Regions from separate parts of the Homo sapiens genome. Here all the other regions are linked to region 1. The links come from fine-mapping of genetic effects on gene expression. A gene starts in region 1. Each other region holds a variant in brackets. All regions are shown on one strand. Distances are from middle to middle.

The links.
Region 2: its variant is fine-mapped to the expression of INVS in whole blood (TOPMed, PIP above 0.99).
Region 3: its variant is fine-mapped to the expression of INVS in neural progenitor cells (Aygun 2021, PIP 0.95).

What each region holds. Positions count from the first base shown.
Region 1 is chr9:100,093,327-100,104,332 of GRCh38, reverse strand. INVS (inversin) reads right to left here and starts at 5,090. Exons shown (of 17, transcript NM_014425.5): 1 at 4,917-5,090. ERP44 (endoplasmic reticulum protein 44) reads left to right here and starts at 5,333. Exons shown (of 12, transcript NM_015051.3): 1 at 5,333-5,549. The coding sequence starts at 5,493. It also overlaps the pseudogene RN7SL75P. RefSeq lists a silencer at 4,817-5,026 and enhancers at 5,267-5,406, 5,417-5,486.
Region 2 is chr9:100,292,605-100,303,308 of GRCh38, reverse strand. It overlaps INVS (inversin), which reads right to left. Exons shown (of 17, transcript NM_014425.5): 14 at 10,266-10,704; 15 at 6,163-6,392; 16 at 5,299-5,373; 17 at 1,134-2,741. The coding sequence ends at 2,635. TEX10 (testis expressed 10) reads left to right here. Exons shown (of 15, transcript NM_017746.4): 15 at 1,005-1,225. The coding sequence ends at 1,118. Among named protein-coding and RNA genes, the nearest start is that of TEX10, 55 kb to the left of the region's middle. The variant T/C (reference allele first, on the strand shown) is at 4,225.
Region 3 is chr9:99,894,139-99,905,209 of GRCh38, reverse strand. It overlaps STX17-DT (STX17 divergent transcript), which reads left to right. Exons shown (of 3, transcript NR_038853.1): 2 at 10,205-10,330. Among named protein-coding and RNA genes, the nearest start is that of STX17-DT, 6.9 kb to the left of the region's middle. The variant T/A (reference allele first, on the strand shown) is at 4,277.

The DNA of each region.
Region 1 (11,006 bases):
AGCAGTTTGGAAGGCCAACGCAGGAGGATTGCTTGAGGCCAGAAGTTTGAGAGCAGCCTGGGCAAGATAGTGAGGCTGTCTATCTTAGTGAGACCTGTCTCAAAAGAAAAAAAGCTATAGTCCTAGTCCTGGAATTGGCATTAGGTGGCAAATTAGGTGACTTTTGTACAAGTTGCTCATCTGCTCATCTGTAAAATGAGAGGGTAGGTGCTTCTAGGACTCTTCTTAGGGACTATCTGAGGAAAAAACAAAGACAATATTTAACATTAGGCACAGGGCTCAGGGTTACAGTGACACAAGCAATATGATGCCACATAATCTAAGTTAATACAAGTAATATGATGCCACATAATATTAAACATTAGAATTGATATTGCAAATAAAAGTGAGCCCGATCCACAAAAAGAGTATAACATAAACTCAATTGTGAAGTCAGAATTAGCTGGATTTAAGCACTAAATAAACTTAAAAAAATTAATTAGGGCTGGGCATGGTGACTCATGCCTGTAATCCCAGCACTTTGTGAGGCCAAGACAGGAGAATTTCTTGAGCCCAGGAGTTTGAGACCAGCCTGGGCAATATAGCGAGAGCTCATTTCTACAAATCCCATCCCCTCCCCTCCCTTCCCCTCGCCTCCCCTCCCCTCCCCTCGCCTCTCCTTTCCTCCCCTCCTCTCCCCCTGCTTTCCTCCCTTCTTGTCTTTTCGAGACAGGGTCTTGCTCTGTCACCCAGGCTAGAGTGCAGTGGTGCGATGTCAGCTCATTGCAGCCTCTGCCTCCAGGGCTCAAGCAAGTCTCCTGCCTCAGCCTCCTCAGTAGCTGGGATTATAGGCACCTGCCATCACGACCGGCTAAGTTTTGTATTTTTTAGTAGCGACGGGGTTTCACCATGTTGGCCAGGCTGGTCTCGAACTCCTGATCTCAAGTGATCTGCCCACCTTGGCATCCCAAAGTGCTGGGATTACAGGCATAAGCCACCATGCCCTGCCTACCAAAAGTTTTTAAAAATTAGCTGAGCATGGTGGCATGCACTGTAATCCTAGCTACTCGGGAGGCTGAGGTGGAAGTTTCACTTGAACCTGAGAAACAGGGTTTGCAGTGAGCTGAGATCACACCATTGCATGCCAGACTGGGCAACAGGTTGAGACCCTGACTCAGAAAAAAATAAAAAAATTAGTTAAGGCCGGGTGTGATGGCTCACGCCTGTAATCCCAGCACTTTGGGAGGGCAAGGCGGGCAGATCACCTGAGGTCAGGAGTTCGAGACCAGCGTGGCCAACATGGCGAAACTGTGTCTCTACTAAAAATACAAAAATTAGCTGGGCGTGGTGGCGCGTGCCCATAATCCCAACTATGCAGGAGGCTGAGGCAGGAGAATTGCTTGAACCTGGGAGGTGGAGGTTGCAGTGAGCTGAGATCGCACCACTGCACTCCAGCCTGGGCAACAGAGTAAGACTCCATCTGAAAAAAAAATTAGTTAAAAAACTATTTTTAAAGAGATGGGATCTTGCTATGTTACCTAGGCTGGAGGGCAGTGGCTATTCATAGGTGCAATCCCACTACGATCAGCATAGGAGTTTTGACGTGGACCAGTTCATTCCTTCTTAGGCAGCCTGGTGGTCTTCTACTCCTGGGAGATCACCATATTGATGCCAAACTTAAAGTGGACACCTGAATGGCATAGCGCACTACAGCCTGAAACTCCTGAGTTAAGCGATCCTCCCTCCTCAGCCACCTGAATAGCTGGGACTTCAGGCATGTGCCATCACACCTGGCTAAATACTAAATTAAAAGGTATCTAGGTCTTGCCGTCATTCTCACAAAAAGTGAAATTTTTATTTGTTCTCTCCTTGGTCCACCAGGAAAATATACCTAGATAGAGGTCTTAACCATAAGATCTTACTTGGAACATCGTATCACTAAAATGAACCATATTTCAATAAGGACAATTTTGTTCTGACCGGTAGTCTCATGGAGCTTGTAAGAACCTTTTAAAAACATATGACAGGAGTTTGAGAGACCAGCCTGACCAATATGGTGAAACCCCGTCCCTACTAAAAACACAAAAATTAGCTGGGCTGTGGTGGCACACACCTGTAATCCTAGCTACTCAGGAGGCTGAGGTGGGAGAATTGCTTGAATTTGGGAGGTGGATGGAGGTTGCAGTGAGCCAAGATCATGCCACTGCACTCCAGCCTGGGCACAGAGGGAGACCCTGTCTCAAAAAAAATAAAATAAAATAAAAAATAAGTATCAGCCGCATAGGAAGATAGTGAGATCCCTATCACAAGAGTGTTTAAGAAAGCAGAGGCTGGAGAAATGCAGCAACAATTCAAACACCTGATGGGAAGGAAAGATGAATAGTTGCATCAGTGATCTTAAACATCCTTCCTAAACCCTTAAGCTGCTTTATCAAAGTTCCAAAGCTGAATGCCTACAAGGACCAGAGAGGTAACAACTGTTAGAAACGTAGGGAGTCACAGAATCACGGTAAACTCAAGCATATGTACTTATCTAAAGGGAGCAGCTGTTAATCAGCTCCAGTTAATTGCTGCCATGAGGGTAGGCAAGTCCTTTTCTGATTTCACCAAAAAGCAGGTCACGCCAATCGCTGTTACTCCTGGGGATCTGAGAGTTTTCTAAGATAAATTTATAACGGATGAGCTGGTATTTGTCTTGTCATCGACAAGGATTATTGGTTCAAATTCTGCCCTTGAGAGAACATATTAATACTTTCTTAATTATGGTAAAGCACAGCTCCTTACGTCTTTATTTTGCTGACAATTTGAGTTAAGGACTGGCAGAAAATATGGAGGAAGAGGGTGTTGTGAGACACTTCAGTCATGTCTGAGTCTAACAGTCATGTCAGAAGAACTACTGTCATATCCAGGATTATATTAAGGTTATTTGAGAGAAGCTACAAAATAGAGGTGGAGGTGAAAACATGGGAGGGGAGTAACTGCACTTGGGTTCTAGGCCCAGTTGTATTTATAATCAGCAGTGTGTCCTCAGGCTATGTCAGCTTTCTAGGTTTCTGTAAAATGCAAAAAATAATAAGGTTAGACCATGTTCACATTCGTTCATTCAACAAGCTGAGTGACAACTATGTGCTAGGCACTGTTCTAAACTCTAAGACCTGTCATTTTTCATTCTAAGTGATCAGAGTTTTAGGCACATCAGAACCACAAAAAAAGTTCTTTATACCCTTTGAAAAATACACTAAAAATGTGATCTCTGTTTTATATATATGTGTGTGTGTGTATATATTATACATATATAAATTATATATACACATATATAATATATATAATATATATACATATAATATATATATTATATATACATATATATTATATATATAATATATATTATATATATAATATATATGTATATATATTATATATATTATATATATACATATAATATATATACATATATAATATATATTATATATACATATATAATATATATATTATATATACATATATTATATATATATTATATATACATATATTATATATATTATATATACATATATTATATATATAATATATATTATATATACATATATTATATATATTATATGTACATATAATATATATATTATATGTACATATAATATATATATTATATGTACATATATAATATATATATTATATGTACATATATAATATATATATTATATATACATATATAATATATATATTATATATACATATATTATATATATTATATGTACATATATTATATATATTATATATATATACTTTTTACTTCATAATTCTTAGCACTTAGCACAGTAACAGGTATATAGCCAGTACTCAGTAGATGTTTGTTGGATGAAAGGTCACAGGCTGAGTGCTAAGTCCAAAAAGTGAGCAGGATCAAAGTTTAATTTCTTGAATAATGAGTTCATACTTACAAGTCTCTGCTCTTTTAAAATTTCCCATTTCAACTATCTTTGGGCTCTGTCAGGGGCGTGGACAAGAGATAGGAGCACTAGTCTAGGAGTTAGGCCGCCTTGGTAAGAGTATTGGCTCTATCACTGTCTAATTTTGTCACCCTGAGAAAGCCATTATGCAGGGCTCTTTTTTTTTCTTAAGAAAAAATGTATTTTTTGCCCCTTTAAGAAAATAAATCATTTTTTATAGAAAAAAGTCAAAACCACTTTGATAAAGTGCTATAAAATGCAAAGGTGTCATCATCCTTGCCTAATTATACAACAAGCCCGTGTAATAAATGCTCTAATAATTATAACCGTACAAAACTAGAGGTACTGCAGTCACACTCATAGGAAGAGTAATTCTGATTAGGACTAAAGGGTTGGTTGTTCGGGAAGTTCTCAGAGATGGTGACATTTAAGATAGCATTCCAGAGAGAGAACGGGTAAGGCCATTCCAGGCAGCAGGAAAGCTGAAGCAAAGGCGGGAGCAGGGAGAACCACAAAAGCACAGTGTGCCTCCTGGGTACTAAGCAGAGATCGCGTGGGCTCCTGGACCTCACTGAGTGTTTGCAGAAGAAGCCGCAGAGCTACCTGGGGCCAAGTTAGGATCCTCGACTGCTTTGCTAGGGAATTTCGTAATTATACTGGAGGAGCGATCCACGCCTTAGCAGCAATCACTCACACAGTTTTCCAGTTTACGACGTGCTATCCCATCCCGTACCACATCTACTCCTTACAGGAGCCCTCAGAGACAATCAGGGATAAGTCATTGACTCATTCAACTGAGGCCCCGAGTGGTGGCTCTGACTTTATAATGCAGGAATTAGAGCAGAAAGAAGAGGCAGCGGGCGAGGAGGCCAATGATGGAGGCTCAGGCCACAGCCTAGGCCAGGAAGGCCGTGAGTCTGCAGCAGGGGCCAAGGCGGTGCGGACCGAATGATCTGAGCCTCCCCAGCCAGGCCCCCTCCTACTCACCCTCGCCTCCTCCAGGACTGACGTCCCGGGGGCGGCTCCAGGAGGCGCAACCCGGACCGGGCCGCCCCTCCTGCCGGGCCGGTACACTATATCCAGCCAGGTCAGACCCCACGGCGCTGAAGCTAGCCGAGCCCCTCAAAAGGCCGCCCGAGGCTTTCGGCCGCACATCCTTCTGGGAATTGTAGTTCCCATCCTCTGAAGCACCGCGTACACCCGCCCTCCGCCCTTCTATCCCACAGGACCCCGCGCGCAGAGGACTCAGTGGACCGGGGCCGAGAGCCCAATGGGAAAGGAAGTTCTAGATGACGGACGACGTGCGGGGTGAGGCTAGTGCAGGACTACATTTCCCGAAGTGCACCGAGGTGGGCAGGACCCGGAAGTGAGGGTGTGAGAGGCCTCTCTGGAAGTTGTCCCGGGTGTTCGCCGCTGGAGCCCGGGTCGAGAGGACGAGGTGCCGCTGCCTGGAGAATCCTCCGCTGCCGTCGGCTCCCGGAGCCCAGCCCTTTCCTAACCCAACCCAACCTAGCCCAGTCCCAGCCGCCAGCGCCTGTCCCTGTCACGGACCCCAGCGTTACCATGCATCCTGCCGTCTTCCTATCCTTACCCGACCTCAGATGCTCCCTTCTGCTCCTGGTGAGTGAGGGAATGACAGACCCATCGACAAACGCACGAACGGCCTCCGGCCCTCGCCCAGGGGGAACACTGCTACTCCTGCCCCTGCTTTTCCGTCTTTTCCTGCAGTGTTTTGGAGTGCACCCTCCCCCGCTGCCCTCACTCTCGCCTGTCGGCTTCCAGGCGCGGAGTCCCCGAGGCCTGAGAAACCAGTGTCGGGGGAGAATGGGAGAATTAGCCCTGAGGGACTGATACGTAGTCACGGCGTAGGAGCTTCCCCTTCTCCCCGAAGTCCGGGGGTTTCGGTTTCGAGGGCTAGTGGACCTGGTGGTAGCTTGAATCGGAAAAGACCAAGCATAGACCTAGCGTTCCTTCCCACCCTCTCCATTTGGGAAGAGTGTGAGGTCGACAGGTGCTGGGGTTGTGTGACTCTCACTGGGTCTAGATCCCTGAAGCGGTGCCCGGGTTGGCAGATCCCTCTGTTGTGGCTTGATGCGATTGGTTGGGAACCCGGAACTGGAGACTGGTTTGGATTCCACTGGGAGAATAGAGTTTGAAGGGTGGAAGGTGTGGTTACCTGACAATCTCAGCTCAAGGCCTCCCTCAAATCTTATTGCAACGTATTTCCCCATGGAAGCAGATTTCTTCTTCATTGCGCCTTATTTGAATATGCATTCATTCCTAACTGCCTAACCTGCTCAGCATCATCCCATCTTAAAAGAATCTTTCCCTAGTCCCTCTTGCCCCAGAGTACGTCTTGAGTGTGCAGACTAATTGATCCAGGCTTCAGGTCAAATTGAGACAAAAGCGAAGGACTAAACACGTATGGCAAAATGGCTTATATTTAATTGGGCTGTTAATTATAATGTAATATTTGAAAGTACCTTAATTGTAGTAGATTTTTAGAAATTCAGATTTAAACATTAAGAACTACTTTCTTTACAATTTAAGAAACGATTTAGTGACGCATATGAAGTCACACAGCTAGTTACAGGCAGAGCTGGGATTAGAAACAAGTCTCTTGACTTCCAGTGCTTATTCCGCCATATCCCATTAAATGTTTAATATTTGTGTTTGAAATAGTTCTTTCTTTTCTTTTGTCACTTGGACCTTTTCGGAAAAAGCACTGTAAAAAACTAAATGGCATGTCAAAGTACTTTTGAGAACAAAAAGTTGTGTATAAACATTGTAATATTAAATGATAGAGTGTCTTATTGCCACTTCTTATAAGTATACAACAGTGAATGACTTCTGTATCGAGGAAAATATTCTGTATAGTGTTGTTTCTTGGTGATTTCATTATACACTGTGATACATTTTTCCTTCTAGAAGTGTTAGAATAATACCATTATTAGAGACCACTCTCTCCTTAAGAAGACTGGATACTAATCTTATCCACAAAATGGCTTGAGTTATGAATTGTGTGCACTTTTAGGAAATCAAAAAAAAAGGGCAAAAATCTTAAGATATTGTAAAGAAAAGTTGAGACACTGAACAGGCAAACTATATCAGATGCACTTTCCTCAAATGGTATGGTTTGGTTGTAAAGCTAAGTTATGAAGAAGAAATAATTTATTTTGGAATAACTCATGCTTTTTATAGAAAAACCTAATCTTGTTAAATATGAGTTTTTTCCCAAATAGAATCTAGATTTAACTAAAATCTAAGCATTTTGTATAATTATCTTTCTAAGCAAATGTAAAGGCATAAAAATCTGGAAAATATGTTAGAGAATACCTGTAGATATGAAAAGGCTGAAAAAGCCCCAGAAAAGGTTTAAACTAGAATTACAAGTCAAACTAGATTTAATTGGAATACAGTGTTTACCTAGTTTTAATACTCATATGCTAGTTAGCAAATATTTATAAAACATCTATCCTGTCTAATCGCAACTTTGAGTTGCTTACTTAACTGGTAATTCTCTCCTACTGATGGAACCTACTTACTCAGTATTCTCGCTGTCTAATAATTTGTCCTCTTTGTTCCCCCGTGTACTTTTTTCCTACTCTTCCAACTTTCTCTCTCAGACCTCAAGTTTATTCCTTCTTACATACAGATAAAGAAAAGCCAAGTTCCCATTTAGCTGAGGTCATCATTTTTTCCTTAAATGGCCTCCTCTAAAAAGCTGTATATTCTCTTACTATGATAATTTTCTTCAGGCACTTTGTACCTCAACCCTAAAGAACTAGACCTGTTCAAATTTAGTGGTGTTCATATAAGATAACAGTTGAAACATAATCCCAAACTTCTGGAGGCAAGTAGCTATCTTTTCCCTGATCTCAAAGCATTTTGGAATATATCACTCTGCCACAAAGCCTTTCTGGATGGGTAACTAAACACAAAAGCTCAATGTGATAACTTTTTTTCCTGAGCTTTTATATGTATATATATCTTTTATATATATATTTATTTGCGTCTATATAGATTTTTATTTACATATATTTAGATAGATAGATTTAATTAGCCCTTTTCTGCTTATCTTCCTATCTAAGGTGGGTTTATTCAGGGTTTTCCGCTGGGAAAATGATCAGTAAGGGGGATAGAAATCTTGCCTGTTTTTCCTGCACTGGTTGTGTACAAGTTTTGAAAAGGCGAGATAAGAGAAATAAGACTAAATTGGAAAGAAGTTGTCTCATGCACCCTAGGTAACCTCTTCTGTAGTTCAGATTTGTAGCACTGCAGTCCATTTGTTTTATTGAAGATGTGTTCTCATTAATCTCTTGATAAGTATGTTTATAGATCATAATTGTTACTAGTCGTAATTGTCCCGCATGTGAACACTTAAGGGTTTTGCCATTGTTGTTCTCGGTTTGTTCAATATGTATAGGTAGTCAAGAAAAGTTTGCTTAGTTTAGGTAGCTATGTAAATTTGAGAGCTAAGTAAACATTTATTTAATCGTTACAAGTACCTTAAAAATAAGCACAGTAGAATTCAGAGATGTCAGTTTTATCCTTTAATGTTAATAATATATGTAGATTCCAGTCTTCAGGAAGAGTACTTTTGGAGGCATGCAGTTTGATTAATACCTAGGTGAGGTTTTATTTATTTTGTTGATTTAACTTACCCTAGATCAATAGTTTACAAAGCCTGGCTGCTCATTAGAATCATCTGTGGCAGTTTTAATAAAATGATATCGGGGCCCAATACCAGGTCAGTTATATCTGTGAGCCCCAGAAATTAGTTTTAAAAAAAAATTTCCCAGGTGACATACTAAAGTATGTCCCTCTAAAAGGTAAGAATTAAACAAAACCACAATACCATTATCACATCTGGAAAAATTGACAGAAATTCCTTCATATCATCAAATATCTGGTCAGTGTTTGGGTTTTCCTGATTGTTTCCCTTTTTTTAAAAAAAAATAAACAGCATTGTTCAAAGCAAGGGCTATATAAAGTCCATCTATTCCAATTGGTTCATATGTCACTTATAAAACTTTTTAAATCCCTAGGTTCTCTCTCCATCTCATCATTTTCCTTATAATTTGTTTAGGAAACTGATCCTCTGTCCTGTAGCATTTGCCACATTCTGGATATTGCTGATTGCATCCTTGTGGGGTTTTATGTTTCTCTGTTCCTTGTGTTTCCTGTACATTTGTAATTCAATTTATGTGGTCCTAACCACCAGCTGCATATATATTGTTAGGTTCATTTGTTTCATTTATCTTTCAATTTTTAGTTTTTAAAAATTTACCTTTTATTTTATAATTATATAAAATCTCTTCCAAAACTAAATCTGTAAAGCTAACTATATTTGGATAAGTCTAATTTGTTTGTCTCTTTTACTGTCTTATCTCCCTCTTAATAAAATAGCACTTTTTTTTTTTTTTTTTCTTGAGGCAGAGTCTAGCTCTGTCACCCAGGCTAGAGTGCAGAGGAGTGATCACAGCTCACTGCAGCCTCAACCTCTGAGGCTGAAGCAATCCTTTCACCTCAGCCTCCTGAATAGCTGGGACTCTGGGACTACAGGTGTGTGCTACCACACCTGGCTAATTTTTTTTAATTTTTGTAGAGACAAGGGTCTCACTATATTACCCAGGCTGGTCTTGAACTCCTGGCTCAACTGATCTGCCTGCCTTCCAAAGTGTTAGGATTATAGGAATGAGCCACTGTGGCAGACCTAGGAAAATTTTTTTTTAATTTTTTTTTTGAGTTGGAGTCTCACTGTGTTGCCCAGGCTGCAGTGCAGTGGCACCATCTTGACTCATTGCAACCTCTGTCTCCTGGGTTCAAGTGATTCTCCTGCCTCAGCCTCCCCATTAGCTGGGATTACAGGCGCTTGCCACTGTGCCTGGCTAATTTTTATATTTTTAGTAGAGATGGGGTTTCACCATGTTGGCCAGGCTGGTCTCAAACTCCTGACCTGAGGTGATCTGCCCGCCTTGGCCTCCCAAAGTGCTGGGATTACAGGCATGAGCCACCACGCCCGGCCTGGAATACTTTTTTAAAAACTTTTTCAATTTTATGTCCCTTTCTTCCTTTTTTTTTTTTAAAGGTACAAGCTATTTGTATTTATTTTGGCATATATTTGTTTCTCCCTCCACTTGGATTAAATTGTAGCTTATTAGTCACACTTTTCCCCCACCTTTTTTTTAACTTAAAATTTTATTCTAGAGATGCGGATAGAAATTTTGCCTATTTCTTTTTAACTGCTTATGCTTCACTGGATAGATACCAGTTCACTGTTGTTACCATTCTTTTGCTGTTACAGATAGCTCTGCAAACAATAGCTTGTGCTTACGTAATTTTGATAGTGTATCTTTGAGATAGATTTCTGTACTTGCAGTTGCTAGGGCAAAAGGTAAATGTATATGTAGCTTTGTAGGTATTGCTGTATATTTGAAATTACTCTCCGTATAGGGGTTGTGCCATTTTATGACCTCACCAACAATGTAATAGTTTCCCTGTAGCCTTGATTAAAAAGGTATAATGTCAAATTATTGGGTATTTGTCAGTCTGATGGGTGAGAAATGGTATCTCAATGTATTTTAATTTGCCTGTCTTTAATATGAGTGTGATCAAGCTTCTTAGGTGTAAAAGTCATTTGCATTTCTTTTTGTGTGAACTGTCTTCCTGTCTAGCCTGGTTTTCTGTAGAATTGTTGGTCTTCTATTTCTAGACTATATAGACACAGACACACACAGTTCTTTTTTTTTCCCCCCCCACAGACAGGGTCTTGCTGTGTAGCCCAGGCTGGAGTGCAGTGGCCTGATCTTGGCTCACTGTAGCCTCAACCTCCCAGGTCACGTGATGCTCCCACCTTAGCCTCCCAAGTAGCTGGGACTACAGGCACAAGCCACCACACCCAGCTAATTTTTGTATTTTTAGTAGAGATAGGCTTTTGCCATGTTGCCCAGGCTGGTCTCGAACTCCTGGGCTCAAGCGATCCACCCGCTTTGGCCTCCCAAAGTTCTGGTATTATAGGCCTGAGCCACTGTGCCCAGCCCACACAGAGTTCTTAACCCTTTATATCCTTAGTTG
Region 2 (10,704 bases), 200 kb before region 1:
CTATTAATGAACTGTGACAGCTTGGCAAGTTTTTTTCTTTCTTTCTTACCTATCCAAGCTTGTTTTCCTATCTGTAAAAATGGGAATAATGCCAACTTTATTGTGTTTTGGTGATCATTAAAGGAGATAACCCAAGTAAAGTTTTTAGTATACCTGACATTTGTTAAGTGCTCCATAAATGTTGTCATTAAGGAAATTATTTAGCAGGAATAAACTTCAGGCCAATTTCTAGTCACTTAGTTCACTCTAAAGTAAGAAAATCAGAAGTTGCAGACTTCAGCTTTGTCTAATGGTTGGCTCTCTGCCTTCAGCTGTGTCTGTTTGGCCGGGACAGCTCTGTTGTTTAGGATTCCTTTGGTGATTTTAGTTTGGGGGGGGGGCGGTTAAAAAAGTGTCTTGTATAGTTTGATTGGCAGATTATCCCTTGAGATTCGTAGTGATACTTTGAAGTAATAGTGCTTTTACATGCATATAACACAGGTGCTCATTAGTATTTTTTCAGTAGCCTTTGTAGGGGTAATGGAAGTGGCAGTGGAATAATTCAGAAATAGTGAAGGGAAGAAAATCAAGAGCTTGGATTATTCCCAGACTGGGGAATCAGCCCATCTTTGTAAAGAAGAGATTGACAGAAATTGTTGGTTGGCCCTGTAGAGTTATTCTCAGTTGGCACTGGGGTAAAGATCATGAGACACTAGAATGGCAAGAGGGAGAGGCAAGGGTGAAGGGATGGTTGGTGGTGAAATTTCATTAGTCTCTAGCATGTGCAGGAGGGAACAGACTTAACAAGAAACCATTAGCATTTGAGGATATAACTAGGAATTTTCACTGCCTGTGGTAATGCCCAATTAATAGTTCCCTGTTTCCTGGAAGACTTCCTATGGTAATTTACAGATGGGGATACAGTTGCCAAAGCTCTGGGAAATTGTGTTTGGGTGTGAAAAATACTGTCAGGTAGCATAGTGATTTGGGTGCAGTTCTCAGATTACTCTTGTTTTTCTCTCCAGACATTGAAGAGTGGAAGTGTTCAGGAACAGTGGCTCACAGACTTACATTACTGCTTCAACGTGTATATCACTGGGCATCCCCAAGGGCCCAGTGCACTGGCTACAGTGTATTGAAGAGGCCATAGTACCTCCTGTTTGAAGTTGTTTATTCACATCTATCTTATTTGAAGAAAAAGACTGATGTAATAGATCTTTGTCATTAAAGCTGAACTTTTAAAGAAGTTTACGAACCTTCTTTCTTTGCACTGATATATGAAAATAATGTTTGGGCGTTCCTATTGATGTGTAGGCTGGCTTCCCGGACTAGCACACGATACATGGTCATAGGCGGTTGTGCATTGTGCATTTCATAGGAGCTAAATATTTACAAAATAGAGAGTGATACTGTGGTACCTTCTGTTATATACCAAGAAACTGGCTAAATCTTTGTAATTCCATCCAGGCAGACCTCCTTCTTTGTGTTTTTGTGATCACAAAAACGATGAATGTAATAATTAGTAAACTAAAAACCAAGGTAATTAAGTGAACACTTCATTGCCTATCTGTCTATCTCTTACCGTTAGCACAGAAGTGGCACTGATCTGAAGAAAATGAAAGCAACCCCCAAAATACCTGTGAGTAAAATATATCACTGTTTATGCCTACTGTCAATATTCTCACAGCAGCTTTCCCCTTAAACAATGTGAAAGAGCCCATCATCACTGGATTTTATTTAAACCAGGTGTTCTTAGAATGCTAGGATGTGTGCCGTTTCATTCTTCCCTGCCAACAGAAATGGCATTTTAAGAAGATTGCTCACTTCTGCAAGTTGGTCAGAAAATACAAGTAGAACGTTGACGCCTGAGTTAGCACCTTGCTGCATGAACAGTCTGGTCTGTAAACCCTACCTGACAGAATCCTTGATACTGTAATACGGCTGTTGGTATTCAGCACTGAGAAAGCCATTCAGTGAAGACGTGGCGGCAACTTGTGGCCTTGAGAGGCTAACGTAGGAACTGTAAAATGTAAGGAATCACCAGAATGTATCTATGGTCTTTTGGACAATTTCTAAATGAAAACAGTGGGCAATGATTCTGATCTAAAATTTAAACCTGATTAATTTTGAAGTAATAGTGGGACGTGATATGTGTGTGTGTGTGTGTGTGTGTGTGTGTGTGTGTGTGTGATAAGTTTGTTGCATTAGATGCCAGGAAAGTAGTGAGAGGAAGGCTGCTATGGGACAGGCTTCCTATCTCATTTAGGTTCATCTCTTGAAACAAGAAGCCAGTACCAGCTAGCTGGCAGAAATCCCAACCCAGCAGCCGTAGTTTTCCTTAGATTTTGCTGTTAATTATGAATTCTCATTTCCAACTGTACAGACTGAGGTGAAAGCAGACACTCAGGCACTTTGCACAGACATAGTCTATGCAGGTCCTTTCAGTGCAGGCTGTGTTGATTGACAAAACAATGCTGTGTAAGAGCAGAAAGGAAACATTCTGACATTTTCTTTCAGTTAACACATTTTTAGGTGAATCAGCCTTCAGGTACGGATATTAAAGTTTTCCCAAGGTGTAAAAGATTATCAGCAGAAAATCTGAACTCTGCACTAGCTATGCCAGCTCCCCCGAACACAGTCTTCCTCCATAGGCAGTCAAGGTTTTGTTTTGTTTTTTGGCTGAGTAGCTGATTGCAGGTTATAAGAAAAGTTCTTTGATCTTCCACTGTTCTCAAGGAGATGTATACACTGTAGGTTGCTCACTGTTAAAAACAAATACCAGATAGATATTAAGGTTATTAATTTTAAGGCTGAAGGGAATAGTTCATTGGTGTTGAGGAAGAAGGATTTCGGTTTAGGCTATCCCTGGGATGATGGGCCAGTTTACTGTAGAGGCAGGATGACTTAATATAATAGCTTTATATTTCCTGCAGTCTCAAGATATGGGACATCTCTTCAAGGGAGACTTGATTAAGAGAGAGCAGGCACTTGGGGAGCTGGTACCAGAACCTCGGTCTTCAGTCTGCCTGAAATAACAAATAGATTCTCTCTCTGGGTCTCTCACATAACACATTACATAAACAGGTAACACATCTTTTAACTCTCCTATTACACTTTGAATAGTTGTTCTAGAAAATAGGTTTGTTAGAAAATATTCAGATCCTCATGAATGATAAGCTGATGGGAATATCAAAATGGATTTTTGAGGCCTTTTTATGACTTTGAATTAACAAATGTATAGGATGCCACAGTCAGAAAACATTAGTGATATACTTTGACAAATGATACTGAGGCCCCATATGAGAAACCTTGCTGAAGACATTGCTATATTTTGCTTCTAACTTTTTATGGAGCATATAAGCAAATACATTAAAGGTTTAGTAGTTTTTAAAAGTAACAAACATATGTCTCAATTTTTCTCTCTTGGTTTTATAACTTCCACAAAATTATTTTAATGTGAACTATTGTTTTTGGCTGTCTTCACTGTATCTTGAATGGAGTTGTCATCTGTGTACCCCTCTGCAGGTGAGCAAGAATAAACTGGATTTGTACAGGGGGTACCAATACTAATAATCACAGTTATTCCATTCACTGGAATGGAACTTTAAAGGGAGTTCTTTTCTTTTATTGTTAAAGAGATAGGCCCAGGTGTGTGTGTGTGTGTGTGTGTGTGTGTGTGTGTGTGTGTGTGTGTCAATAAAAGGCTCTGCTGAGATTCTTGGTGGGTGGTTTGCAAGGCTGTGTGTGTGTGTGTGTGTGTGTGTGTGTGTGTGTTGTGTGTCAATAAAAGGCTCTGCTGAGATTCTTGGTGGGTGGTTTGCAAGGCTGGGTGTAGAAGACTGACATGAGCAGGGATTGATTTGCTGCCTCCCAAATACATGTGGAGAAACAGCCCAAGGAGGCTGGCATTTTGCTATATCCACCTTTCTGCTTCTTCCTTTTTAAGTGGTAAAGGCACTACTAAAACCTCGGGGGTGGGGGGTTCTCCAAGTTGGAGGGTGAGAGCAATAATATTCATTAACTGGTTAATGCTTAATGTGGGTGGGCTTGAGCCTAACAAAACTGTGTGTTCTCCTAAATTTGGGGTTAGGAAAAGATCATTTTATCCTTGTCTGATTTTAAACCAGTCAAAAATATGTGTAGGACAAGTAAGTTGCTTGTTCATATGAAGTCCTAAGAAATCATTAAGTATTGATTTGAATTTATTTACTCTGTCCCTTCTGAGTCTCTTAACTAAAAAACTTA[T/C]ATGCTGCTAAACACCATTTTAAAAGATTTCTGGTAGTCTTGGATTTGTTTTTCTCTTAAGACTGAAAAATGATCCAGTTATCTAATTTATGCTAGTATTTGATTGTCTAAATGCCACTTCTCTGGTAGTGATATCTGACAATTCTGTTTTTGAAATGATTCTTTAATTTGCTCAGGTATAATGAAAGGGGTTTTTTTGTTTGTTTGTTTTTAAACAGACTGTAGGCCTTGATTGCTTTGAAAGTTTCTAACTACCCCACCCACCACTCCCTGATCAGCCTGTCTGTATTACATGAGTTGTCCAACACTTATTAAAGATTTGGCAGTAATTACTCTGTCCCCCACCTCCAGGTTTTTGCCCCCCATCAAAAAACTAAATGAATATTAAAGTTCATGCTGACAGTCATTGTTCACCTTCCCAGCTGCACTCTGTTCCTCCAGGATGACTGTGTGGATCGAGGAGGCAGGGGGGAGCGTGTTGCCATAGCCACCTATGAGAAACACTGGACCTGGCATTAGCTGCTGACAGCAATGAACTTATCACCCATATTTAATGCTGGTGTGAATGAGGGGGCCCTAAGTAAAACACTCTTGTCTTGGTGGCTGAAAAGAAAGTTCCCTGAGCTTCTCCTGTATGAGGGAAAGCACGCACAGCTGAGCCTGGGCTGTACATGCTCTCAGTGTTCTCTTCATGGTGTTCTTCCCATCTTGGAGAAGGAAATAGGGGATCATAGTGTGACACCAAAATGGAACAAGGATTCCCAAGGTATTCCTTTGAAGAGTGACAGTATTTTCATTTATTTCCTTTGTGTGAAAAAATGTGTAAAAGTGATCAATAATAGCTACCATTTATTTCTGTTGGAGTTAATGTTAACAATAATAGCTTTTAGTTGTGAAAATAATTTGCCTCTTAGGGAGACAGATGTTGGCTACAGTAATAATCCCATGAAATCAAATGACCATTGGAAAACCCTGGCCATATCTGTTCTAATGTCTTCTGTCTTTGGGGATGAAACAAAGGAAAATGCTTCCCCATGTTCTTCCCCACCATCTGCTTTGCAGTGGCTGCCTTACCTGAGTTGAGACGCAGCACAGAAGAGGCTTTTACAGATCTTGTAGGATGATGTATTTTCCCTTCGTGAGAACAACCTGAAATGAACCAACAACTGTTACTTTTCTTTGGCCAGGGATACGTTTGGCCTGACCAACTTCTGAATTCCTTATTGTGGTAAAGGCTTGAGCTTGCAGGTGTGTGTCAAGATAAGTTAGGTATGGTGTGGAAACATGTAGGCCCAGGGTAAAGTCCTGAGATTTTGCTAAATGAATGTTAAAGTTCATGCTGTAGGAGATCTTTCTAAAGGTGCTCTTGCTTATCTTTTTTTCTCTTGAGCCAGCAAGGCTTCTTGAACTCTACTGGGTCTATTTGGATGGGCTCTTTGCAGAGCTGAAAATGTTTCAATTTACAGCAGTTAATCTGCTGAACAAATATTTACTATAGTGCATGGGTGTTGAGCATTCTCATAGTGGGCAACCCTATAACATCTCAGCATAGGAAAAGTCAAAGTGATACAGGCAGAGTCTAGCTAAGTCGTGAATGCTCCAAATGGGTAATGCAAGGAGGAGACTCAAGCAGGGGTCTGGAGAGGTTTAAACAGTAAAGCTTGAGGGCACTCTGGGCTGAGATGCTAGAATGCCTCACGAAACCAAACAATTATGACCCAGTATCGCTGGGAGGCAGGAATGAAATGGTGCTTGAGAAATATTAGGTTGGTGCAAAATTAATTGCAGTTTTGACCATTTTTAATAATACAATTAATTTTGCACCAACCTAATTTATCTGAATGGAAGTTTACCCAATGTAATTAAATTCTACTTCAGATTCTGATGTGGTACTCTGGGGGTACTTGTGAACTACAAAGTAGGCAGAAGGACAGTTACCATAGATTTGCTTAAGCACTGAGTGCTTGGTGGACTTTGTGCCTGAGGTGCCCTTGGATGGACTCTTGGGGGCCTTGCTTACTGCAGTGGTTTGGGGGAATTTTAGTTCCAGTTCCTTCCTCCAAACCTGGAGGAGCAATGCTGTAGACTCTTGCCTCCATCTGTCCACATCTCCAGCTCCAAGCTGCTTCATATGCCGAAGGTGGGACAGGTGCTTCCTGAGCTGGTAGCTGGTTGGGTCAGAGGAGAGGAGAGGCTTTAAGATCACAGTACTGAGAAAACTAAATTTCCTTAAGGTTTCTAGAAGCTATAGGAGTAGTATTTGCTGAATTCCTGGTAGGTTCATTCAAGCTCCCATTCCTAATTTTGGCGGCAGCATGTTGAATGTGGAATTCTTTTTCCATTATCAAACACCTCCTGAACTAGGATTCAATCATGATTCCTTGCCTTCAAGGAGCTCACAGACTAGTGGAACAGGCTGCTGTGTAAAGAGGTACGTGTGGCATGAGAGTACTGTGCAAGAGCAAGGAGCTGGTTGTGCAAACAGATGCAGGACTGACTGATGGTTTGGTAAGGTTTCACAAGGTTAATATTTGTGCTGGATTTTAAAAGATGAATAGGAGCTTACCAGGCAGAGAAGGGCATTCTACGTAGCAGAACTGGCATCAGCAGAGATAGATAGAGGCATTTGTGCCAGAAAGTCAGTAACACAATGTGGAAGCACTGTGTCTTTGGTGACGAAAGGGGGCTTTAGAGTGGTAAAGGTATGAGCTGCATCTTACTAAGATAAGTCTGTTGGAGGTGGGTTTAGAGTGGGTGAGGAATGGGGATGATGGCTATATTTACATCTAGGATTTATTTGATGTTTTCAGTCCCACATGCACTCCCAAACTTACTGAGCACAACAACTATTTTGAGGCCTCCAAAGGAAAGCTGCAGCAATGTTTATTATCTGTATCTGTCTTTATTCCTAGTGAGCCTATAGGTAGCTGCAGAGAGCAACAGGCTTCATGTCTGATTTTACAGTGATCCCATTTGGGCTGCACCAAATGGGAAGTAATCTTTTTCCTAAGTCTGCTAAAAGCTCCTTGCAGCGCTTGGTGCAGCCCCTCCCTCCTTCCCCAAAGGCTGATTTCAGTCAGCCTACACTACTCTTCCTTCTGTCCTGGAGGGTAACACCATGGCATCCCTCTACTAGAATACGTACCACATTTCCAAAAAGCCAAGTCTAGAGAAAAGTATGGCACTACCGCGCTATAATTCAGTTTCTCCTGTTTGAAATGCTGTCTTCCATACCTTCTGCTCTTGTGGGCACAGAACTTGGGGGGAAGCCCAGGTAGTGGCTGAAGCTGTTAATGGTGTCAGCCCTCAGTGGGCCCAGCAGCACCTTTCCTGCTCAGCTTGTCCAGGATCCTGTTTCAATCTTTAAAATAGTCATCTTACTTGGTTATTAAACTGACAATTTTAAGATCAAGTTTCATTTTCTCAGGACCCAAGGTTCATTTTGCCCACTTCTTCCCTGCCTGTTTTCCAGCTCCTTTTCTCCATCCTCCACCTGTCCCCTATAACCACAGCCTGCACTGAACACTTAGTGTCCAGCCCTGACCCCTGCCCCAGCCCTCACTGCTTAGGTTTGCTATCAGATACACTTGCAGGACAGCGCTTCAGGCTCCTGTATTTACAATAGAAAATGTAGTTAAAATATAATAGAATCAATAAAAGTGTGTTTACTGTCACCAGACTTGGCTTTCTGCAATGTGCAACAATCCCAGAAGTCCTTTGGGCCTCAGAATTGCACAATGGCACATCCAGAGGGGGCCTGTGTAGTTACCTACGCAGGTGGGCATGTTAGACCATAAGCCCACTGTTCTTGGGGGAATGACTGAAGGCTCATTTGCTACTCTGGTCACTTACTGACAGGACCTGTCAGCTTCTGACTCTTCAAAGGAGTCAGACAGTCGGAGAAGGAGACATTTCAGGTAGGGAGCAGCTGTGGGGTCTGGCGTGGTAAACCTTGCTGGCTTGTTTAGATCCTAGATTTTAGCCAGAATACTTAAAAAGTTCATCTGGATGGTAGCCAGTGCATGTCCCACAGAGTGCAATGGCCATTTCCACCTGTGGCTTTCGAGGCCGACTGTCTTGGCTCAAAGCCAGCCCTGGCACTTGCTCTGTAATGTTGGTGAGTTGATGAACCTCTCTGTGCTTCAGTTTCCTCATCTGTGTAACGGGGATAAGAACAATACCTACCTTGCAGGGTTATCAGTGACGATTACATGCACAGGTAAAACTAGTTTGAACAGTGGCACAAGTGTCCAATAAATAATACTAGTATGTTAACAATTGGTAGTAGTAACATCACCCTTCTCCTGGTTACCCTGATGTGTGTGACACCAACCAGGCAGCCTTCTCCAGCCTATTTTCAGGCAAAGTGCATGGGGCCCACCTCCACCTCCCTTAGCTTGACCACAGCAAAAACTAACTTCACTAATAATGTAAGGGAAAGGCCCTTGGATTTGAGTCAGCCAGAGGTTCAAGTGCTGGATCTGCACCAAAAGGACAAGTCAGTTTTTCCTCTCGTCTGAAAAATGGGGATACTGCTCCCTGTCATGATGGCTTCCTGGTGTGGTTGGGAGTTCACATGGGGTCAGGCATGAGAGGACTTTGTTAATGGCCAAGAGCTGAAACAGACATAGGGAGAACACATTGCAAAGCCTGTGCAAGCACAAACCAGATCACCCGGCTCTGGGTTAGGCAGTCTCTGGTATGATATGAACGGAGGCCTCTCCCTGGACCTCCTGGGAATCTATCTAGTTTTCTCCCTGCCAATGTTAAGGAGAGAACGTCTTCCTTTTTCTCCTGACGGGAACCTCGATATCTCATACACCTGTGCCGCATTATTTCCTTGCCTTGTCTCCCTCCCCATCCGTCTTCCTCTCCCCAGTGATGGCGGCGACATAACTTCCACCTATTTCTTTTCTTGAGACAGGGTCTCACTCTGTCGCCCAGGCTGGAGTTCTGTGGCATGGTGATGGCTCACTGTGGCCTTGACCTCCTGGGCTCAAGCGATCCTCCTGCCTCAGCCTCACAAATAGCTAGGACTACAGGCATGTGCCACCATGCGTAGGTAATTGTTGTACTTTTTGTAGAGACGGAGTTTGGCCGTGTTTCCTGGGGTGGTCTCGTCTCATAACCCTGGGTTCAAGTGATCCTCCCTCCTCGGCCTCCCAAAGTGCTGGGGTTACAGGTGTAAGCCACTCTGCCCGGCCAACTCCCACCTATTGGTGATGGGTCCAGCTTCTCTCTGGACATTCATCACTGTAAGGCCTAATTTAGATTTAGGCTCTAGTGAGGCTTTCAGGATGAAAGAGATTATGAGACGTGAACATTTGTAGCAATAAGACCCCTCAAGTCCTCCCATAATCATCCCCTAGCGGCATTTGTCTCTACTATATTGGGAGTCTGTTTCAGGCTTTTAGGACAGCCTTCACCCCCACTCCCAGTGCCTACTATGTATTTTGAGCTTGGTAGATGCTCAGACAGGTTTACATAATACAGTTTAGTCACTCAATCTGTTATATCCAGACCCTGGTTTAGGTGTTTGGAGTATGACTAGTTCCTGGGTAGTAAAGACATAAGAATAAAAATAAAGTATCTCCTATGTGTAGTAATTTAGAATTAATGAAGCGTGCATTATCTCATTCCAGCAACCTGTCATATTAACAGGACATGTGCAACAATTATTAAATCCTGTTTTACAGATGAAGAAGCAGAGGGTCAGGGGGGCCATGTGATTTGCCCAAAGTCACATAACCTGTTAGAGCTTACCTGAACCTCACATTTCATGGTTACAAACCCAGGGCTTTTTCCTTTACCCCATGCTGTCCTGAGCACTTTCCCATCTTTCTAGGCAAAAACATCTTCCAAATGGTTTATACAATGTAAATTACTAGGATCTGGTGTGAATTTCATGGGTAGGCTCTATAAAATTGGCCTTACCATGCCACCACATGGAACTCACTGGGAAAACATCAAAGAGCACAGATGTCATGTTGAGAATATCAGTAACAAAGAACCACAGATGCGGCAGCACCCCATTTTCCTACCTTCGCCAGGCGCGCTGGATGACTGCTGCTGCCTTGTTCTTTTTGCGAAACAGCTCCTTCCTCCTTCGTTCTCTCTGAATTATCTGCAGTCGGAGCTCTACGGGGAGAAGGTCAATATTCACACTCTGCCCAGAGAGGGGACCAGGTGCTGGATCAGTCTCCTTAGATACCTGAAAGTCCTCGGACAGGGTAGATGTCTCCAGCCTCCTAGCTCCTGACCTCAACTCCTCTGTGCTCTGTGGCAAATGTGAATAGAGCCCTCCTGTGAGCTTGGCTTGTGTCACTTTGTTTCTTGGTGTACGATGGTGGGGAGGATTCTGCCCAGCATGGACCGCCTCCCCCCGGGCACTGCCAGGGCGGCTAGAACCAGCCGGAGAGCACCTTCCTCCTCTGAGCTCTTGAGTGCGCCTTTTCTGGGGGGCACATTTGGCCTTGGGTT
Region 3 (11,071 bases), 200 kb after region 1:
ACATGCCCGGCTAATTTTTTGTATTTTTAATAGAGACAGAGTTTCACCATGTTAGCCAGGATGGTCTTGATCTCCTGACCTCGTGATCCGCCCGCCTCGGCCTCCCAAAGTACTGGGATTACAGGTGTGAGCCACCATGCCCGACCAAAACCTTTTAATCTAACTGTTGGTTAGCTTGATTTATAATCTTTAAATATTCAAACATATGGTGTGTGGACCTCTTTTGTGTACTCTAGGTCATCAAGTTGTTAGGGGCAGGCCTGCTACTACTGGCCGACATTTTCCTGAAGTCCTAACTGAACCCAGCAAGTCCAAACAAAACATTAAGTGTATATGTTGGAAAGAAAATTAAAAAAAATTCTTAGGGTGTTATGATTGATTGCTTTCTTGGAAAATCCATGGAATAAACTGAAACTAATTCAATAAGATGGCTATAAAATACCTCTCCTAAACAACAATCATCAATTTTAAAATGTAATGAGAAGAAGACTGGGCGTGATGGCTCATGCCTATAATCTCAGCACTTTGGGAGGCCAATGAGGGAGGATTGCTTGAGGCTAGAAATTCAAGACCAACCTGGGCAAAATAGTGAGACCCCATTTCTAAAAAAAACAAAAAAAACGTAGCTGGGTATGGTGGCATGTACCTATAATCCCAGCTACTCAGGAGGCTGAAACAGGAGGATCAGTTGAGCCCAGGAGTTTGAGGCTGGAATGAACTATGATCCCACCAGCCTGCACTCCAGCCTGCAGAAAAGACTGACACCCTGTCTCAAAAAAAAAAAAAAAAAAAAAAATTGAAATGTACTGGGAGGAAGATTACATTCAAAAATGACAAAAATCAAGTTTGTGTTTATAAGGAATTACAAGACCTATTTGAAGAATTGAGAATAATAGCTAGATGAGGGATAGGGGTGGAAGGAAGGATCACAAAGGGGCATAAGGAAACTTTGGGAGTGATAGAAATGTTCATTATCTTGATTGTGGTAATAGCTGCATGGACGTATATATATGTCAAAACTTACCAAATTGTACACTGTAAATATGTTTATGTATAAGTGCTTATTGTATGTGAATTATACCTAAATAAAGCCATGTAAAAAGGGAGGGGGGAAGAAGTAGCTTTTTATTTGATTGCATGTGATGTGTAAAGCACTTGGTTAGGCGCTTTACATGCAATATGTTATTTAATACTGATGACAACCCATGAAGTAGGTATTACAATCACCCCCTTCATACAAACTAGGAAATTGAGGCTTAGAGAGTAACTTGACCAAGGTCCAAGTCTCATATACTACATAACAGGAGTAAGACTCAAATCTTACGTAACAGTATTTATACTTTAACCTGACTTCCATATTTCCATATAAGATACAAGTAAAGACTTGACTATGTGGAAAAGTAATACAGTCAATATTGTAAAGTTGTCCATTTCCACCAAACTAACTTAAAAATTTATCAAAATCCCATTATGATTTTTCTCTTTCTTTTTCTTTCTTTCTTGTTTTTCTTTCTTTTCTTTCTTTTTTCCTTCCTTCCTTCCCTTCCTTCCCTTTCTTTTCCTTTCCTTTCTTATTTCCTTCCTTCCTTCCCTTTTTTCCTTTCCTTTCTTATTTCCTTCCTTCCTTTTCCTTTCCTTTCTTATTTCCTTCCCTCCCTTCCTTCCTTCCTTCGTGTTTTGTTTTGAGATAGAATCTTGCTTTGTCACCCAGACTAGAGTGCAATGGGGGTGATCATGGTTCACTGCAGCCTTGACCTCCTCCTGCCTCAGCTTCCCAAGAAGCTGGAACCACAGGTGTATGCCACTATGCTGGGCTAATTTTATTTTTCTAGAAATTGGGACTCCCTGTGTTGCCCAGTCTAGTCTCCAATTCCTGAGCTCAAGTGATCCTCCTACCTCAGCCTCCCAAAGTGCTAGGATTACAGGTGTGTGCCACCACACCAGGCCCCCTTTATGATTTCTATAATAAAACATTTTAAAAAATCCAAATTGATTTTGCAACTATTACTCTTTCTTCTTAGAATGCCATTTTTTGCCTGCTTTCCCCCATCTCTTTCCCCCCACCCCAGAGTAAAGAAATTACTCTTTATTCTGCTGGACTCAAAAGTCATCTCACCTAGGAAGCTTCTCCCACTGATATGGTTTGGCTCTGTGTCCCCACCCAAATCTCATCTTGAATTGTACTTCCATAATTCCTACATGTTGTGGGAAGGACCTGGTGGGATATAATTTGAATCATGGGAGATAATTTGAATCATGGGGGCGATTTCCCCCATACTGTTCTCATGGTAGTAAATAAGTCTCAAGAGATCTGATGGTTTTATCAGGGGTTTCCACACTTTTGCATCTTCCTCATTTTCTCTTGCTGCTGCCATGTAAGAAGTGCCTTTCACCTCCCGCCATGACTCTGAGGCCTCCCCAGCCATGTGGAACTGTAAGTCCAAATACAGTTCTTCTGTATTTCTTCCCAGTCTTGGGTATGTCTTTATCAGCAGCATGAAAATGGACTAATACAGTAAATTGGTACCAGTAGAGTGGGGCGTTGCTGAAAAGGTACCCAAAAATGTGGAAGCAACTTTGGAACTGGTTATCAGGCAGAGGTTGGAACAGTTTGGAGGGCTCGGAAGAAGACAGGAAAGTGTGGGAAAGTTTGGAGCCTCCTAGAGACTTGTTGAATGACTTTGACAAAAATGCTGATCGTGATATTAACAATAAGGTCCAGGCTGAGGTGGTCTCAGATAGAGATGAGGAACTTGTTGGGAACTGGAGCAAAAGTGACTCTCGTTATATTTTAGCAGAGACTGCCAGCATTTTGCCCCTGCCCTGGAGATTTGTGGAGCTTTGAACTTGAGAGAGATGATTTAGGGTATCTGGTGGAAGAAATTTCTAAACAGCAAAGTATTCAAGAGGTGTCTTGGGTGCTGTTAAAGGTATTCAGTTTTATCAGGGAAGCAGAGCATAATAGTTTGGAAAATTTGTAGCCTGACAATGTGACAGAAAAGAAAATCCCATTTTCAGAGGAGAAAGTCAAGCTGTCTGCAGAAATTTGCATAAGTAATGAGGAGCCAAATGTTAATCGCCAAGACAATGGGGAAAATGTTTCCAGGGCATGTGAGAGGTCTTCACAGCAGCTCTTCCCATCACAGGCCTGGAGGCCTTGGAGGAAAATATGGTTTCATGGGCTGGACCAAGGGTCCTCGTGCGTGTACAGCCTAGGAACTTGGTGCCCTGTGTCTCAGCTGCTCCAGCTGTGGCTGAAAGGGGCCAATGTGGAGCTTGGGCTGTGGTTTCAGAGGGTGCAAGCCCCAAGCCTTGGCAGCTTCCACGTGGTTTTGAGCCTGCAAGTGCACAGAAGTAAAGAATTGGGGTTTGGGAACCTCCACCTAGATTTCAGAGGATGTATGGAAATGCCTGGATGCCCAGGCAAAAGTTTGCTGCAGGGGTGGGGTCCTCATGGAGAACCTCTGCTAAGGCCGTACAGAAAGGAAATGTGGGGTCAGAGCCCCCACACAGAGATGCTACTGGGGCACTACCTAGTGGAGCTGTGAGAAGAGGGCCACCGTCCTCTAGTCCTCTAGACCCCAGAATGGTAGATTCACTGATACCTTGCACTGTGCACCTGGAAAAGCCACAGACACTCAACACCAGCCCGTGAAAGCAGCCAGGAGGGGTGGTATACCCTGCAAAGCCACAGGGATGGAGCTGCCCAAGACAATGGAACCTACCTCTTGCCTCAGCATGACCTGGATATGAGACGTGGAGTCAAAGGATATCATTTTGAAGCTGTAGAATTTGACTGCTTTCTGTTACAGGGCACGTGCCCTGTAACCCCTTTGTTTTGGCCAATTTCTCCCATTTGTAACAGCTGCATTTACCTAATACCTGTACCCCATTGTATCTAGAAAGTAACTAGCTTGCTTTTGATTTCACAGATTCATAGGCAGAAGAGACTTGCCTTGTCTCAGATGAGACTTTGGACTGTGGACTTTTGGGTTAATGCTAAAATGAGTTAAGACTTTGGGGGATTGTTGGGAAGGCATAATTGCTTTTGAAATGTGAGGACATGAGATTCGGAGGGTCCAAGGGCTGAATGATATGGTTTGGCTCTGTGTCCCCACCCAAATATCATCTTGAATTATACTCCCGTAATTCCCACGTGTTGTGGGAGGGACCTGCTGGGAGATAATTTGAATCATGGGGGCAGTTTCCTCCATACTGTTCTCGTAGTAGTGAATAAGTCTCGTGAGATCTGATGGTTTTATCAGGGGTTTCCGCT[T/A]TTGCATCTTCCGTATTTTCTCTTGTCACCACCATGTAAGAAGTGCCTTTCACCTCCTGCCATAATTCTGAGGCCTCCCTAGCCATGTGGAACTGTAAGTTCAATTAAATCTTTTTTTCTTCCCAGTCTCGGGCATGTCTTTATCAGCAGCGTGAAAACAGACTAATACTCTCACCCTCTCAAGTCCAGGTTTAATGTCCCCTTATAAGCTACTACAGCAATCTATGCTTATCCCTATAAAGGTCCTTATCATAATTAGTTGAATTCTTCATCTTCTTATCTGTGACTCTACTAGATTCTAAGTTTCTTGAGGAAAGATATACATTATTATTTACTTAGAACCTAGTACGGTTCCTGGAACATCCTAGGAAAACAATGTATTTTACATGAATTAAGAAATAAATTTTCTAGTATCATAAAGCAAGTATATGAAGAATCTGAAATAAAATCCAAATTTGGCACAATGGTATAGACCTAATAGGTTATCTTCCTGGCCCATTACTTTTCTGAGAACTGCAAAGAAAAGCCCAGGAACTGCTCCTCCCCTCCAGATCTGAATGCTAACAGTTATGAGTCTCTGTTGTACCAGCATGAACCCCTTCCTACCCTTGACCAGAGGGAATTGGTCCAGGAGCAGACACCTGAGTGGGCTTTTCTTTGCTGGAAGCCTTTTTATTATAGCTTCAATCTCATTACTTATGATTGGTGTGTTCAGGTTTTTGACTTCTTCATGGTTCAATCTTGGCAGGTTGTATGTGTCTAGAAATTTGTCCATTTATTCTAGATTTTCTAATTTATTGGCATATACTTGCTCATAGTAGTCTCTAATGATCTTTTGAATTTCTGCAGTTTAGATTATAGTGTCTCCTTTTTCATCTCTGATTTTATTTCTTTGGGTCTTCTGTCTTTTTTCTTAGTCTAGCTAAAAGTTGATTGACTTTATTTATCTTTTCAAAAACCACCTTATCATTTTATTGATTTTTGTATTGTTTTGTTCATTTTTATATCATTTATTTCTGCTCTGATTTTTATTATTTATTTTCTTCTACTAATTTGAGGTTTGGTTTGCTCTTGTTTTCTAGTTCTTTAAGATGCATTGTTGGGTTGTTTGAAGTTTTTCTCCTTTTTTATTAGGTGGTTATTGCTATAAACTTTCCTCTTAGTACTGCTTCTGCTGTATCTCATGGCTTTTGGTGTGTCATGTTTCCATTTTCATTTGTTTTAGGAAATTTTAAATTTCCTTCTTAATTTTTTTATTGACCTGCTGGTCATTCAAGAGCCTATTATTTAATTTCTATGTGTTTGTATAGTTTCCAAAGTTCCTCTTGTTTTTGATTTATAGTTTTATTCCATTATGGTGAGAGAAGGCACTTGATATTATTCTGATTTTTTTGAGTGTTCTAAGACTTGTTTTGTGACCTAATATATGACCTATCCTTGAGAATGATTCATATAATAAAGAGAAGAATGTGTATTCTACAGGCATTAGATGAAATGTTCTGTAAATATCTATTAAGTCCATTTGGTCTATAGTACAGATTAAATCCAGTGTTTCCTTGTTGATTTTCTGTCTGGGTGATGTGTCCAATGCTGAAAATAGGGTGTTGAAGTCTCCAGCTATCATTGTATTGGGGTCTATCTCTGACCTTAGTTTTAATAATATTTGCTTTGTATACCTGGGTGCTCTCCCGTGTTAGGTGCATATATGTTTAGAATTACTAAATTCTCTTGCTGAATTGACCCCTTTATCATTATATAATGACCTTCTTTGTCTCTTTTTATAGACTTTGTCTGAAATCTTTTGTCTAATAAAAATATAGCTGCTCCTGCTTGTAATCCCAGCACTTTGGGAGGCTGAAATGGGCAGATAACTTGAGGTCGGTAGTTCAAGACCAGCCTGGCCAACATGGTGAAACCCCATCTCTACTGAAAATACAAAAATTCACCAGACGTGGTGGCATGTGCCTGTAATCCCAGCTATTCAGGAGGCTGAGGTGGGAGAATTGCTTGAACCCAGTAGGGCAGAGGTTGCAGTGAGCTGAGATCATGCCACTGCACTCCAGCCTGGGCAACAGAGCGAGACTCCATCTCAAAAAAAAAACAAAAAACAAAAAGCGTATATGGCTGCTCCTGCTCCTTTTTTGTTTGTTTCAATTGGCAAGGAATATTTTTTTCCATCTCTTTATTTTCAATCCATGTGTCATTATAGGTAAACTGTGTTTCCTGTAGACAACAGATCTTTGTGTCTTTTTTAATTAGTTCAACTACTCTGTGTCTTTTTGATTGGTGAGTTTAGTCCATTTATATGAAATGTTACTATCAATAAGTAAGGACTTACTTCTGCCATTTTATAATTTGTTTTCTTGTTGTTTTGTGGTCTTCCCTCCCTGCCTGCCTGCTTTCTTTCCTCCCTCCCTCCCGCCCTTCCTTCCTTTTGTGAAGAGTATTTTCTCTGGTGGTATGTTCCAATTTCTTGCTTTTTACTTTTTGTGTATCTGCTGTAGGTTTTTAAATTTGAGGTTCTCATGAGGCATGGAAATAACAGCTTATAACCCATTATTTTAAGCTGATAACAACTAAACACTGGTTGTAAAAACAAACAAATAAGCAAAGAGAAGAGTAATAAAAACTCTACACTTCAACTTCACTTTACACTTTAACTGCTTGCTTTTTAACTTTTTGGTGTTCTTATTTATATCTTACACTGTCCGTGTCTTGAAAAGTTGTTGTAATTATTATTTTTGATAGGTTCATATTTTAGTATTTCTGCTCAAGACGTGAGTAATTTCCATACCACAATTACAGTGTTACGATATTCTGTGTTTGGCTGGGCACAGTAGCTCATGCCTATAACCCCAGCACTTTGGGAGGGCAAGACAGTTTTGGCCATGTTGCCCAGGCAGTCTGAACACCTTGAGCCCATGTGTTTGAGACTAGCCTGGGCAACATGGCAAGACCCTGTCTCTTCAAAAATTTTTAAAAAAATAAGCCAGGCACTGTGGCATGAGCCTGTGGTCCCAGCCACTTGGAAGGCTGAGGTGGGAGGATCACCTGAGCCCAGGAGTTGAGGATGCAGTGAGCTGTGTTATTAATAGCACCACTGCACTGCAGGCTGGGTGGGCAACAAAGCTAGACCCTGTCTTAAGAAAAAACTTCCGTTTTTGCCTGTTTACTTATTATTACCAGTGAGTTTTGTACCTTCAGATCACTTCTTATTGCTTAACATCCTTTTCTTTCAGATTGAAGGACTCCCGTTAGCATTTCTTGTAGGACAAGTTCGGTGTTGATGAAATCCCTCAGTTTTTCTTTCTCTGGGAAAGTCTCTATTTATTCTTCATGGTTGAAGGATATTTTTTACCGGATATACTATTCTAGGATAAACGTGTTTTCTTCATCACTTTAAATATGTCATGCCACTCTGTCACACCATATGTACTGCCATGTCAAACCTGTAAGGTTTCCACTGAGAAGTCTGCTGCCAGACATATTGGAGCTCCTTTGTATGTTATTTGGTTCTTTTCTTTGGCTGCTTTTAAGGTTCTTCCTTTCCTTCACCTTTGCGAGTTTGATTATTAAATGCTTTGAAGTAATGTTCTTTGGGTTAAATCTGCTTGGTGTTCTATAATCTTCTTGTGCTTAAATACCTATATCTTTCTCTAGGTTTGGAATGTTCTCTGTTATTATCCCTTTTAATACATTTTCTACCCCAATCTCTCTCTACCTTTTCTTTAAAGCCAGTAACTCTTAGATTTGCCCTTTTGAGGCTATTTTCTAGATCCTGTAGGCATGCCTTATTCTTTTTTATTCTTTTTCATTTTGTCTCCTGTGACTGTGTATTTTCAGGTAGCCTATCTTCAGGCTCACTCATTCTTTCTTCTGCTTGATCAGTTCTGTTGTTGAGATACTCTGATTCCTTCTTCAGTATGCCAGCTGAATTTTTTAGCTTCAGAATTTCTGCTTGGTTTTTAAAAATTATTTGAATCTCTGTTAAATTTATCTGATATGATTCTAAATTCCTTCTCTGTGTTATCTTGAATTTTGTTGTACTTCCTCAAAAGAGCTATTTTGAATTTTCTGTCTGAATGTTCATGTAATTCTGTCACTCCAGAATTGGTCACTGGTGCCTTATTTATGTTGTTTAGTGAGGTCATGTTTTCCTTGATGGTCTTGATGCTTGTGGATATTCAGCAATGTCTGGGCATTGAAGAGTTAGGTGTAGTCTTTGCAGTCTGGGCTTGTTTGTACCTATCCTTCTTGGGAAGGATTTCCAGGTATTCAGAGGGAATTGAGTGTTGTGATATAAGTCTCTGTTCACTGCAAGCATATCTGCATTAGGGGCCACCCTAAGCCCAGTAGTGCTGTGACTCTTGCAGACTCGTAGATGTACTGCCTTGGTGGTCTTGGGTAAGATCTGAGAGAATTCCCTGGATTACCAGACAGAGACTCTTGTTCACTTTTCTTACTTATCCCAAATAAATGGAGTCTCTCCATGATGAGCTTCCTGGATCTGGGGGAGGAGTGACACAAGCACTCCCGTAACCACCACCACTGGGACTGTGCTGGGTCATACCTGTGGCCAGCATAGCACTAGGTCTCGCCCAAGGCCTGCAGCAGCCACTCTGGCTACTGCCAGTGTTCACTCAAGGCTCAAGGGCTCTTCAGTCAGCAGGTGGCAAATCCAGCTAGCCTTCTGTCCTTCCCTTCAGGACTATAGGCTCCCCTCAGCCCAGGGCAGGTCCAAAAATGCTATCTGGGAGCCAGGGCCTGGAGCTGGGAACCTTAGGCAGCTCCTTAGTGCTCTATTTTACTGTGGCTGAGCTAGCACCTAGGCCACAAGATAAAGTCCTTTCCACTCTTACCTCTCCTTTCCTCAAGAAGAAGGAGTTTCTCCCCATGGCCACCACCACCCCAGGCCTATGGCAAGTACTGCTTGGTTTACCCAAGTCCCAAGGGCTCTTCAGTCAGCTTGCAGTGAATGCTGCCAGGCCTGGGTCTCTCTTTAGGGCAGTGTGCTCCCCTCTGGCCCAGGGTTAGTTGAGGAATACCATCTAGGAGCAAAGTCCTGGAATCAGAGACCCCAGGAGCGCACTTGGTGCTTTACCCTACTGCGGCCAAGCTAGCTGCAAGGCTTACTCTTCCCTCTCCTTTCGTTAAACCGAAGGAGTATCTCTCCGTAGCCACTACAGCTGGGAATGTGCTGGGTCACACCTGAAGCTAGCACAGCACTCAGTCTCATCCAAGTCCTGTGACAAGTACTGCCTTGCTGCCGCTGGTGTTTATTCAAGGCCCAAGTGCTCTTTAGTCAGCAAGAGATGAATCCTGCCATAACTGTGTCCTTCTCTTTAAGGCAGAGGGTCCCCTTCTGGCCCACAGTGTCTAGAAATGTTGTTCAGGAACTAGGACTGGTTTGGGGGCTTCAGTACTCTTCCTGGTACCCTGTTCTACTGTGGCCAAGATGGTATACAAGTTGCAAGACAGAGTCTTCTTTACTCTTCCCTCTCTCTCCTCAAGTGGAAGGAAGGAATCTCTTTTGGAGCTGCAAACTGTTCTGCCCAGGGTTAAGGGAGGTTTGACATAAGCACTCCCTTGACCACCCCAGCTGGGGTCTCACTAGGTCACGTTCCCCCCAGGTCCACTGGCTCTGAGTCCAGCACAGTACCAGGACTTCCCCAGGAAATGCAGTCCTTGTTGCTTAGACTGCCTTTCAAGTTTATTTAGGGTCCTAGAGCACTTTAGCCCATGGTCATGTGGCTTGCTGGAACTCAGGTTCTGACTATTGGGATGGATGATCCCCCTCTGGCTAGGGCTGGTCTAAATGCTCCCTCTTTGAGCACCAGCTAAATTCTTTCTTGTGTTGCTTTCCACTGTGACAGGCAGCACTGAGTTCCAATGCAAAGTCTCACAATCACTGTGCTCTTCCTCCCCCAGGCATACAGATTCTCTCTCCTCACCACGCGGCTGCTGCTGGAGGATGGAGGAGGGGTGGTGTCAGCAATTCAAGACTGTCTTTCCTACCCTCTTCAGTGCCCTTCCTTGATAAGCTGTTTAAACCAGGTACTGTGATCACTCACCTGATTTTTGGTTCTTACAAAGGGGCTTTCTTGTGTGGATAGTTTTTCAGTTTGCTCTTCCTGGAGGGGAGATGTTCATGGAAGGTGTCTGGCTCCACCTCCCTCCAATCTATCCCTCATTTTTCTTTGTTTTAACTAGCTCAAATGAACTTCTACTTTCAATCTAGATAATTGTAACTATTGTAGACACAAAATCCCATGTTTCTACTATCTTATGATATCAATTTAAACATATTTATATAATGAATCCACTGACTTTAGTACTTAAACCTCACCACTGTCTGCTTTATTGTCCTCTGCCACCACACACACCATCACCAAACAGTTCATATATATAGTAAGGTTAAAGAGGCTTTATAGCAAACCCAAATGAGTAAACACTTTCCCATTCACTACAGAGGAATTTGATAATCATTTTATATATGGAGTGGCTTAAATGCCCAGACATCTGCTTATAAATTTCGTTCCCTTTTTCCCTCTTCCCCTTTTTTGTTCTTTAGATTAGCTAGTTTAGTTATTCTCACAACTTAGTGTGCCCAAGAATTATTGCATAAAATAGTATTTATAAAGTCATGCTTAACAAACCTTTTGGACAATTTAAAGAATTTTCAAGGGTAATTTTGACTATGTAATTTTTGCTTTGTTCACTGACTTTAATTCCTCTTATTCACATCCCTTACCATCCTAACTCCTCATCAAACATGGAACTTTACACTATGCTTAC